Regions from separate parts of the Homo sapiens genome. Here regions 2 and 3 are each reported to be linked to region 1. The links are microRNA targets in miRTarBase. Many come from high-throughput screens and were not tested one by one. Region 1 holds a microRNA gene; each other region holds the end of a gene's coding sequence.

Evidence for each region. Region 1 holds the annotated microRNA hsa-miR-3144-3p (AUAUACCUGUUCGGUCUCUUUA, at 963-984, opposite strand). A microRNA usually pairs through its seed, bases 2 to 8, with sites in the 3' UTR of a target mRNA and lowers its output. Matches are read on the target gene's strand: a 7mer-m8 pairs with bases 2 to 8, a 7mer-A1 pairs with bases 2 to 7 and ends in A, and an 8mer does both.
Region 2: the mRNA of TOGARAM2 is a reported target of hsa-miR-3144-3p. The part of its 3' UTR that is shown has no 7-base or 8-base seed match.
Region 3: miRTarBase lists SNX4 as a target of hsa-miR-3144-3p. Seed matches in the 3' UTR shown: 7mer-A1 at 1,822-1,828.

What each region holds. Positions count from the first base shown.
Region 1 is chr6:120,012,949-120,016,209 of GRCh38, reverse strand. It overlaps MIR3144 (microRNA 3144), which reads right to left and starts at 1,031; the gene lies at 953-1,031.
Region 2 is chr2:29,051,596-29,054,856 of GRCh38, reverse strand. TOGARAM2 (TOG array regulator of axonemal microtubules 2) reads right to left here. Exons shown (of 20, transcript NM_199280.4): 20 at 2,627-3,101. The coding sequence ends at 2,764. Among named protein-coding and RNA genes, the nearest start is that of PCARE, 21 kb to the left of the region's middle. RefSeq lists an enhancer at 1,392-1,902.
Region 3 is chr3:125,445,164-125,448,424 of GRCh38, forward strand. It overlaps SNX4 (sorting nexin 4), which reads right to left. Exons shown (of 14, transcript NM_003794.4): 14 at 1,487-2,663. The coding sequence ends at 2,616. LOC124906351 (small nucleolar RNA U13) reads left to right here and starts at 898; the gene lies at 898-1,000.

The DNA of each region.
Region 1 (3,261 bases):
TCATGTGTCTGTTGGCTGCATAAATGTCTTCTTTTGAGAAGTGTCTGTTCATATCCTTTGCCCACTTTTTGATGGGGTTGTTTGTTTTTTCTTGTAAATTTGAGTTCTTTATAGATTCTGGATATTAGCCCTTTGTCAGATGAGTAGATTGCAAAAATTTTCTCCCATTCTGTAGGTTACCTGTTCGCTCTGTCGGCAATTTCTTTTGCTATGCAGAAGCTCTTTAGTTTTAATAGATCCCATTTGTCAACTTTGGCTTTTGTTGCCATTGCTTTTGGTGTTTTAGACATGAAGTCCTTGCCCATAAGTTTTCTCATTTTTCTTAGTCTAGCTAAAGGTTTGTTGATTTTATTTTTTCAAAATAGCAACTCTTGGTTTCAGCAATCTTTTCTAATGTTTTCAAGTCTATTTTTTTATTTTTGCTCAGATTTTTATTATTTTCTTTCTTTTACTGACTTTGGTCTTAGTGTGCTCATTTTTCTAGTAACTTGAGAAATAATGTTAAGTTGTTAATAATGTTCTTTTTCTGACATAGGTATTTATTGATATAAACTTCTACCTTAAAAGAACTCCTTTTGCTGAATCCCATAAGTTTTGGCATGTTGTGTGTTCACTGTCTCAAGATATTTTTTAATTTCCCTTTTATTTTTCTCTTTGAATCGTTCATTGTTAAAGGTCACGACTTTTAAATTTCCATTTATTTGGAAATTTTATGAAATTTTTAAAATTATTTATAGTATCATACCATTGAGGTCAAAAAAGATATGTAGTATAATTTTAATATTTTTAAATTTGTTAAGGCCTGTTTTGTGGCCTACCCTGCAATCTATCCCAAAGAATGTTTCATGTGCCCTTAAGAACATGTATTCTGCTAATGTTGGATGAAATGTTCTATATCCATAAGTTATATATGTCTCCATTGATATGTATATATCCATTAAAAAATCAGTTAAACTACACTTTAAAGAGACCGAACAGGTATATAGGTAGCTGATATCTATATATCTCTTTGGTCCCCTTAAAGTGTAGTTTCAGTCTGATGTTTTCCTGTAGATTTTCTTTCTGAAGAATAACCATTTTTGGAAGCTGGATAGTGAAGTTTCCTTGTATTTTCTCCATTCATATATATTAATATTTGTTTTATATATTTAGGAGCTGTGATGTTGAGTACATTTGTATTTAGAATTGTTATGTCCTCTTGATAAGTTGACCTCATTATTATATAGTGACCTTCTTTGTCTTTTACAATTTTTGATGTAGTCTACCTTATCTAGTATAGATATTTCTGCTCTTTTGGTTTCCATTTGCATGAAATCTTTTTTCATTCCTTCACTTTCAGTCTATGTGTGTGATTAAAGGTGAGGCGAGAATTTTATAAGTAGTATAGAGTTGGGACTTTTTTGTATCTATTTATCTACTTTTTATTGGAGAATTTAATCCATTTACACTCAAGGTAATTATAGATTTACTACTGTCATTTTTTAATTGTTTTCTAAATGTTGTATAGATCCTTCGTTACTTTTTCTTGATGGCTTCCTTTTGGATTAGGTAATTTTCTCTAGTGATATGCTTCGATTCCTTACCTTTTATTTTTGCGTATTTACTATAGGCTTTTGTTTTGTGGTTAGCATGATGTTTACATAAAATATTGTATATTTAAAACAGGCTAATTTAAATTGATAACTTGACTTTGATTGCATTAAAACTTTTTACCGTCACATCTTATGTTTGACATCACAATTTATATGTTCTTCTATTGTGTATCCCTTAAAAATTATTATAGCCAGCTATTATTTTTAGTAGCTTTGTCTTTTAACATTCATATTAAGAATAAAAGCAGTTTATATACCATTACATTATTATAGTATTTTGAATTTGACTTCTTAGTTTTACCAGTCATTGTTATACTTTCATATTTTTTCATGTTGCTAATTTTCTTTCAGCTTATGGAATTCCCTTTATCATTTCTTGTACAACTGATCTGATGGTGATGAATGTGCTCAGCTTTTCTTTATCTAGAGAGTTACCACAAATGTGCCAATAACATACACTGGGTAAAAGACAGTCTCTTCAATAAACAGTGCTGGGAAAACTGGATATCCATATGCAGAAGAATAAAACTAGACCCCTATCTTTTGCCATGTACAAAAATAAAATCAAAGTTGATTAAAGACTTAAATCTAAAACTTCAAAGTATAAACTACCAGTAAACATTGGCAAAAATCTCCAAGACATTGGTATGGGCAAAAAATTCTTGAACAATGTCCCAGAAGCATAGGCAACCAAAACAGAAATAGACAAATGGGATCACATCAAGTTAAAAAGCTTCTGCACAGCAAAGAATACAATCAACAAAGTGAGTCAACTCACAGAATGGAAGAAAATATTTGCAAACTACCCCTGACAAGGGATTAATAACCGGAATATATAAAGATCTCAAGAAACTCTACAAGAAAAAAATCCAATAATCTGATCAATAAGCAAAGCCTTGAATAGACATTTTTCAAAACACATACAAGTGGCAAACAGGCATATGAAAAGGTGCTGAACATCATTGATCAGAGAAATGCAAATTAAAACTACAATGAGAAATATTTCACCACAGTTAAAATGGCTTATATCCAGAAGACAGGCAATAAATTTTGTCAAGGATGTGGAGAAAAGGGAACCCTTGTACACTATTAGTGGGAATGTAAATTTGCATAACTACTACAGAGAAAAGTCTGGAGGTTCCTCAAGAAACTAAAAATAGAGCTACCATATGATCCAGCAATCCCACTGCTGGGTATATACACAAAAGAAAGGAAATCAGTATATTGAAGAGGTAGCTGCACTCCTATGTTTGTTGCAGCAGTATTTACAATAGCTAAGATTTGGAAGCAACCTAAGTGTCTCTCAACAGATGAATGGATAAAGAAAATGTGGTACATAAACACAACGAGTACTATTCAGTCATAAGAAGAATGAGATCCTGTTATTTTCAACATGGATGGAACCGGAGATCATTGTGTTAAGTGAAATAAGCCAGGCACAGAAAGACAAACATCATATTTTCTCACTTATGTGTGGGAATTAAATATCAAAACAATTGAATTCATGGGCATAGGGAGTAGAAGGATGGTTGCCAGAGGCTGGGAGGCATAGTGGGTGGCTGGGCAAGTGTTGGGGATGGTTAATGGGTAAAAAAATAGTTAGAAAGAATAATACCTACTATTTGATAGCACAACAGGGTGACTATAGTCAGAAATAATTGTACATTTT
Region 2 (3,261 bases), not on the chromosome of region 1:
TAAAAGAAATGCAACTATAACCTTTTACCTCCCCTTTACCAGACACTCCCTCCAGGGCAGGCTCATCTAACTGTGTGCTTAGAAGCTCTAGAGCAGAACTTGCACCCACCAGGAAACTGCCTGGAGACACAACAGTCAATTAATAACCCAAAATATGCCCACTATGAAACTCCCTCCCACCCGGAGAGCTTCAGCCACTTTACAACCTAGTTCTGCCCACGAAGATGCCAACTTGACCACCCGTTACATAAGTCATCAAAGCAAGTATGTGGACTCCCCCACCTGCCCGCTTCCTCTCCTGCATGCCATTCGTGCCAGCACCCCCCCCCCCGCCCCTTTAAAAGTGCCCACTTTCTGCTCCAAAAACGACACAGTACCCTTCAAGGCAGCTTCTTCCCCTAAACTAGCTTTGGAATAAAAAGTCAGTTTCTTTATACCAGGCCTCCCTTTTGTTCACTGGAGTCTGCAAGCAGTGAGTGACTGCACCTGCATTTTTGTTACATGGAGAGAGAGATTGAGAGAAAGAGAATCTTCCATCATTAGAGGCTGTATTCCCACCCCCAAGAGCATCTCATGTAAGTGGAGTTCCTGGCCACACACAGAACCAAGCAAAGTATGTGTGGGCTTAGCTCCAGCCCCAGCTCTTAGGAAAATCTTCATGTCCCATGACAGGCCGTCCCATTAGATTCCCACAGGTATTCCCAACAGGCCCAGGGCCAGGTTACCAACATGCTGTCTTCCCTTCATTTTAAAAGTAATGAGGTAAGGAAGTCTTTGGAGATGGAAATTTCTCAAGGTACACCAGAGCCACCCAGTGCCTCCCAGCAGCGTCACACCACAGGTGTGGTTAATAAAACCTGAAATAATGAGGGAAAAGAGAACAGTGCAAAGATGTATTCTGCACTTTTCCACTGTTTTCAGCTGTTTTCAATGCCTCCGCCCCTGAGAGTGGGTGGAGGCCCATGGGATGGGAAGCTTCCTGTGTGAGAACACACATGGAAGGCAGGAAGACAGGACAGTACTGCTAAGCTTCATTTCTGCCGTCAAAATCCTTGCCAGACTCTACGTCCCTGGCCTCCTAGGGATCTAAAAAACCCTGAAATGTTCTGATACATTCTAGGATAAAAGCAGAAAATGCAAGTCTCCTCACCAAACCAAAAACATTTGCTCAGATGACAGGCAAATGCAATTCATTAAATTGTTCAACACTTAAAACATTTACTGTCAGCCTCTTGGGCATTTTTGGATGGCTGCCTGTCTAGCAGGCCTTTAACCTGGTTCAATCAGAATCAACAAAGAGCTAGATGGTCGCAGGGAAGCCCCTGCTGGGGTCACAATCAGGTGAGAAGCAGCTCACTGGGCTAGAATTACCCAAAGTCACTCTTAAGCCGCCTATGACAAGCCCAAGGCCCGGGATGACTCGCAGGCCCAACCTCACCCCAGGGCGTAAGGAGGGGCCGGACTAACTACACCTGCCACAGAGGCAAGATGGGAAAGTGGCTTCCTCAGCCTGGTGGGGTATGGAAATACATAAGTGAGTAGATTCGGGGCTTTCCAGAGCCAGACTCCCCAGGAGAGGCTCAGAACAGGGATGTGGAATGGATGTTAGGCCTGGGGGGCAGATGACAGTGGAAAGAGGTTCCACTGGGGAAGGGCAGGGGAGGGGGGTGTCTGCCAGAAAACTTGCTGGCATGAGGCTGGGCCCTCAGGGCCTCGGTCGTCTGGATCTGCCCCAGCACGTGGCTGCAGGCTGGGCTCCCCTGCAAGAGCTGGGATGCTGCCTCTTCAGCCTTTGCCTTACCAGGCCTGCCTTGCCTGTGCATTTGAGGTCATGGCCTTAGCTCTAACTCTTTCTGGTCACACAGTTGTTAACCTGCCACTGGCCCCAGCCAAGGCAGAGCCACTCCTACCTAAAGTGTCCAGAGCCTGAGCCCCAGACTTCCCTCTCCACTGCCGGGACTTCATTTCACTGGCTGTTCCCCCAGGGGCCAACACCTTCCCTGCTTCCACAAGTCCTGGCCCGTGCTGTGCCCACTCGCCCCTCCAGCCTTGTGATGTGGCCCACAATTGCAGCCTGTGCAGTTTCAGAGACTCGGCAGCATCTGCACACTGGTAGCACTTTACGCTCCACATGCATCTCCATTTAGGGTGTTTCAATGGCAAAGCATTGTCTAGTCCTCTTCAGAACTAGCCAGAACTCCAACTTCTAGAGAAGGCTTTTAGTGATGCAAATCTCAAATTCCCCTTGTCTTTTGATAAGCTGGGCCGATCAGAAGGTTCCCACAGGACCAACAGACACGTGCTGCAGCTTTTGCAGGGCAGAAGCACGATGTCCCTGAACACGTTTGTTACACTCACCTCCAATCAGGCCCATAACAAATGGACTGGATTCGATGACCAACTCAGGCTGCGGGTTTCAGGAGGGCTTGCCCAGCAGCTCACAGATGGGCAACTATCGTCTCGAGCGGGCTGCAGCTTGCAGGGCTGTGCTACCCTTTTTCTTCCTAACTCTTTGTCTCAACATTGTCTGCAACTGGTTTTGCTGCTGTCACATTTCATTTCGTTCATCACAAACCTAGTTACTGGAAAATTCTCTGTGATTAAAAAAGTACAAGATAATAAAACCTTAGAAAAATAAGTAATTCTTTTATTTCTACTTCAAAATATACCATGTACATCTGGAACTCTAAGGGGGAAAGTAACCAGGAGAATAGTCCATCAAAAAAATAAGATAAATAATAATTGCCCATTTCAGATCCATCTTTAATCCAGCTGAAAAGGGTATGAGCTGCCAGTTGTCTTGCTGTCAGGGGCCACCCCTCTGTCAGTGGCCTTGCGGCTGCCTCCCAAGGACTCTGAGTCTAAGAGTTCCTGGAGCGTCTTGAGGACGTGCTTTGGCTGGCTGGCGGCAAAGTCCAGCAGGCGGGAGCCCATGTGCTCCTGGAGGCTCCTGGACAGCCGGCACACCACCCCGCGGATGTTCCCGCTGGGTCCAGGCAGGGTGCCATTCCTGGTGGCGGTGTTCAGGAAGTGCCAGAGGATGGGAAGGACATGCCGCTCTACAGCTTGAGGCTTCCGGGGGTAAACTGAGGCCACCAGCACTGTCAGGCAGAAAAGGAGAGTCACTTGAGCCAGGCACTCTCTCCCTCTCCCACTTCCCTCTCTTGGGACACCAACTTTGTCCCCCAAAGGGCTGGCAGCCCAGCAGGCACAGCAACTAAGGATCATGACACATTTAGCAGCCTATGAAAATGTGTTAGC
Region 3 (3,261 bases), not on the chromosome of region 1:
TCAAGTGATGCTCCTACCTAAGCCTTCTGAGTAGCTGGGTAGGGATTACATAGGTGTGCACCACCACACTCGACTAATTTTTGTATTTTTTGTAGAGATGGGTTTTCGCCATGTTGCCCAGGCTGGTCTTGAACTGGGCTCAAGCAGTCGAACCACCTCAGCCTTTCAAAGTGCTGGGATTACAGGCATGAGCCATGGAACTTAAATCATTTTTGAAACATAGTTAATAATGGCCTTCTCAAATTAAGTCAGCTAGTAGAAAAAAGTCTAACATTTTACATCGAGTCCAAAGCTAGTTTGGGGGAAAAGGCTTTTGATCTTTAAATGCCAAGGGGAAAGGTATTTTATCTGTCAAGAGATGATACAATTCAGTGGAATAAAATGTGTATCCACACAGATGACTTTTGCTTCTACCAATTTTATCTTTTATAAAACCCTGACATGGCCGGGTACAGGGGCTCCTGCCTATATCTCAGCACTTTGGGAGCCAACGGGGTAGGATCGCTTGAGCCCAGGAGTTTGAGACCAGCCTGGGCAACACAGTGAGACTTCATCTTTACAAGAATAAAATAAAAAAATTAGCCAGGCATGGTGGTGTACCTATGTAGTCCCAACTACTTGGGAGGCTAAGGTGGGAGGATCACTTGAGCCCCCAGAGGTTGAGGCTGCAGTGAGCCATAATTGTGCCACCATACTCCAGCCTGGGCGACAGAGACCCTGTCTCAAAACAAAACAGGCCGGGTCAGGGTGGCTCACGCCTGTAATCCCAGCACTTTGAGAGGCTGAAGCGGGAGGATTCCTTGAGCTCAGAAGTTCAGACCAGCCTGGGCAACATCAGACCCTGTCTCTTTTTTTTTTTTTAAAGTAAAACAAACAAAAACAAAAAAAAAACTCATGATCCTTTTGTGGTTCATAAGCATGATGATTGGGTATTCACACCCACGTGTGAGATGTGCCTCCCTCAAACCTTGTTACAACTTCAACCATTACCCATCTGACAGTAAAAAAAAAAAAAAAAAAAAGTAAAATTTTAAAAATCATGTCTTATTTCAGCATCTTATATTTTTAAAAACCAATATTTTGGTAGATGACAAATTTATACCATTAATAACTTTATTTTTTTTTCTTTCCTCAACTTTTGTTTTAGGTTCAGGGGATACCTGTGTAGGTTTGCTACATGGGTAAATTGTGTGTTGCTGGGGATTCGTGTACAAATGATTTTATCACCCAGGGAGTGAGCATAGTAACCAATAGCTAGTTTTTCGACCCTCGCCTTCCTCCGAATCTGCCCCTTCAAGGAGGCCCTGGTGTCTATTGTTCCCATCTTTGCGTTCATGTGTACTCAATGTTTAGCTCTCACTGATAAGTGAGAACATGTGGCATTAATCACTTTAAAACATAGTATGACAGATATCATTTTCTTACAGAGCATCAGATATTAATATGTATGGATCACTTTGTTAAATTAACAAAAATCATCTGAAAATCAGCACAATATTTCATTTATTTATTGTATAAGTTTGGCAAACAGCACAAAAATCCAGCAACATTTAAAACATATAAAAAAGTCAAATGCTAAACAGGACTAGGGATTTTTTTTTACATCATTAGAAATAACGAGTACACATTTTAAGATTCTGCAAAGCTAGCAAAATGAAGATGCTTGCCTTCTGAACATATACTACAAACACACATACAAAAAAACAATATAATTTATCTTTACAAAAATTACAGCCAAGCAATAGAAAAGAAGGATGTTAATGATGAAGATAGCAACACATATGTTTAGTACATATATCTTACACATTGAAATGCTACATCTTATACCCTGAAATGCCATGTGTAGAGAGCCAAGCAGAGTAAATTTAGGCTCATTACTGAGGTTAAGAATTATTTGAGAAGAATTTAATTCTTATATGTAACATATTCAGTTAAAACTTTCTATATAGGAGTTGCTAGAGGATGACAATGTATCCCATTATAGATCTGAGAAGTTGAGTCTTCTTTGTTGGCAGTATAAAATTTCTGACCAGTATCAAAATTCTGGTAAAACACAAATTGAAGGCATTTTCTAGTGTATGCAAACATTACAAGGGGCATCAATGAATGTAGAAGAAAATCGTAGATTTTTCACATCAAGTTTCTGCTGAGCTTTGTCAAACCAAATAGCTCAACTATAAGGCAAGAGAAAACAACTCCCTATAACAGATTAGTGGATCTTACCAAGTAAATATAGGAATTCAATCTTAGGGAAAAATTCCCTACATTAATAGATCTGAAACAGCTGGTCTTGAAACAAACATCTAGAAATTAACGAACATCTTGACATTCAGTCATTGGTTCAGAAGCGTGACAAACAATCTGTTGGTATATATTATTAAATTAACTTTTTGGAATCAGCACCAGTCCCCAAAACCTCAAATTATAATATTTAATCTTCATTAAAATATATTTTTTGTGCTACATTAACACGACCACAATTAAGTTAAAGAAAGCTGAATTTATTTAACTTATTGTATATGTTTATGTATACTAGGTAGTGACTTAAATTTCTTTTATTTACTTGTGCTTCTGTTTTGGGGCACTTTGATTGAAGAGAAATTCAATTCACAGGATTACATCTTGCTAAAGCATTCCTTAGCATTGGTCCAAACTTGAATTCCCTAAAAATAAAAATAAAAACTTTAAAATGTGAGTTTGGAAGGAATCTGAAAACCCAAGTACTTGGCTTAGTGGTACACTAAGTTTTGCTTTTTGGAATAATTAAGAAGTCGAGAAAATATGACACTATTTTGGGAAGTGGCTAATATAAGCAAATGTCTAATGCTTCTGAAAAGAGAAACAGAATCTCTAATACGAACTTATCTTCAAAATGGAAAAAGAACTCCTACAACTTGTTGGAAAACTGAGTTAATTCATTTCATATCACATACTCGAGTAATTTCTATTTGTAAATCAAACAAGTTTTCAGTCTTTTTTTTTTTTTGGAGATAGGGTCTCACTCTGTTACCCAGGCTGGAGTATAATCATGGCTCATTGCAGCCTTGACCTCCAGGGCTCAAGGGATCCTCCCACCTCAGCCTGCCAAGTAGCTGGGATCACAAGTGCACGCCACCACACCTGGCTTATTTTTTGTATTTTTTTTTTTTTTTGTAGAAATGGAATCTCACTATGTTACCCAGGCTGGTCTGGAATTCCTGGGCTCAAGCGACCTGCTTGCCTCTGCCTCCCAAAGTGCTGGCATCACAGGTGTGAGCCACA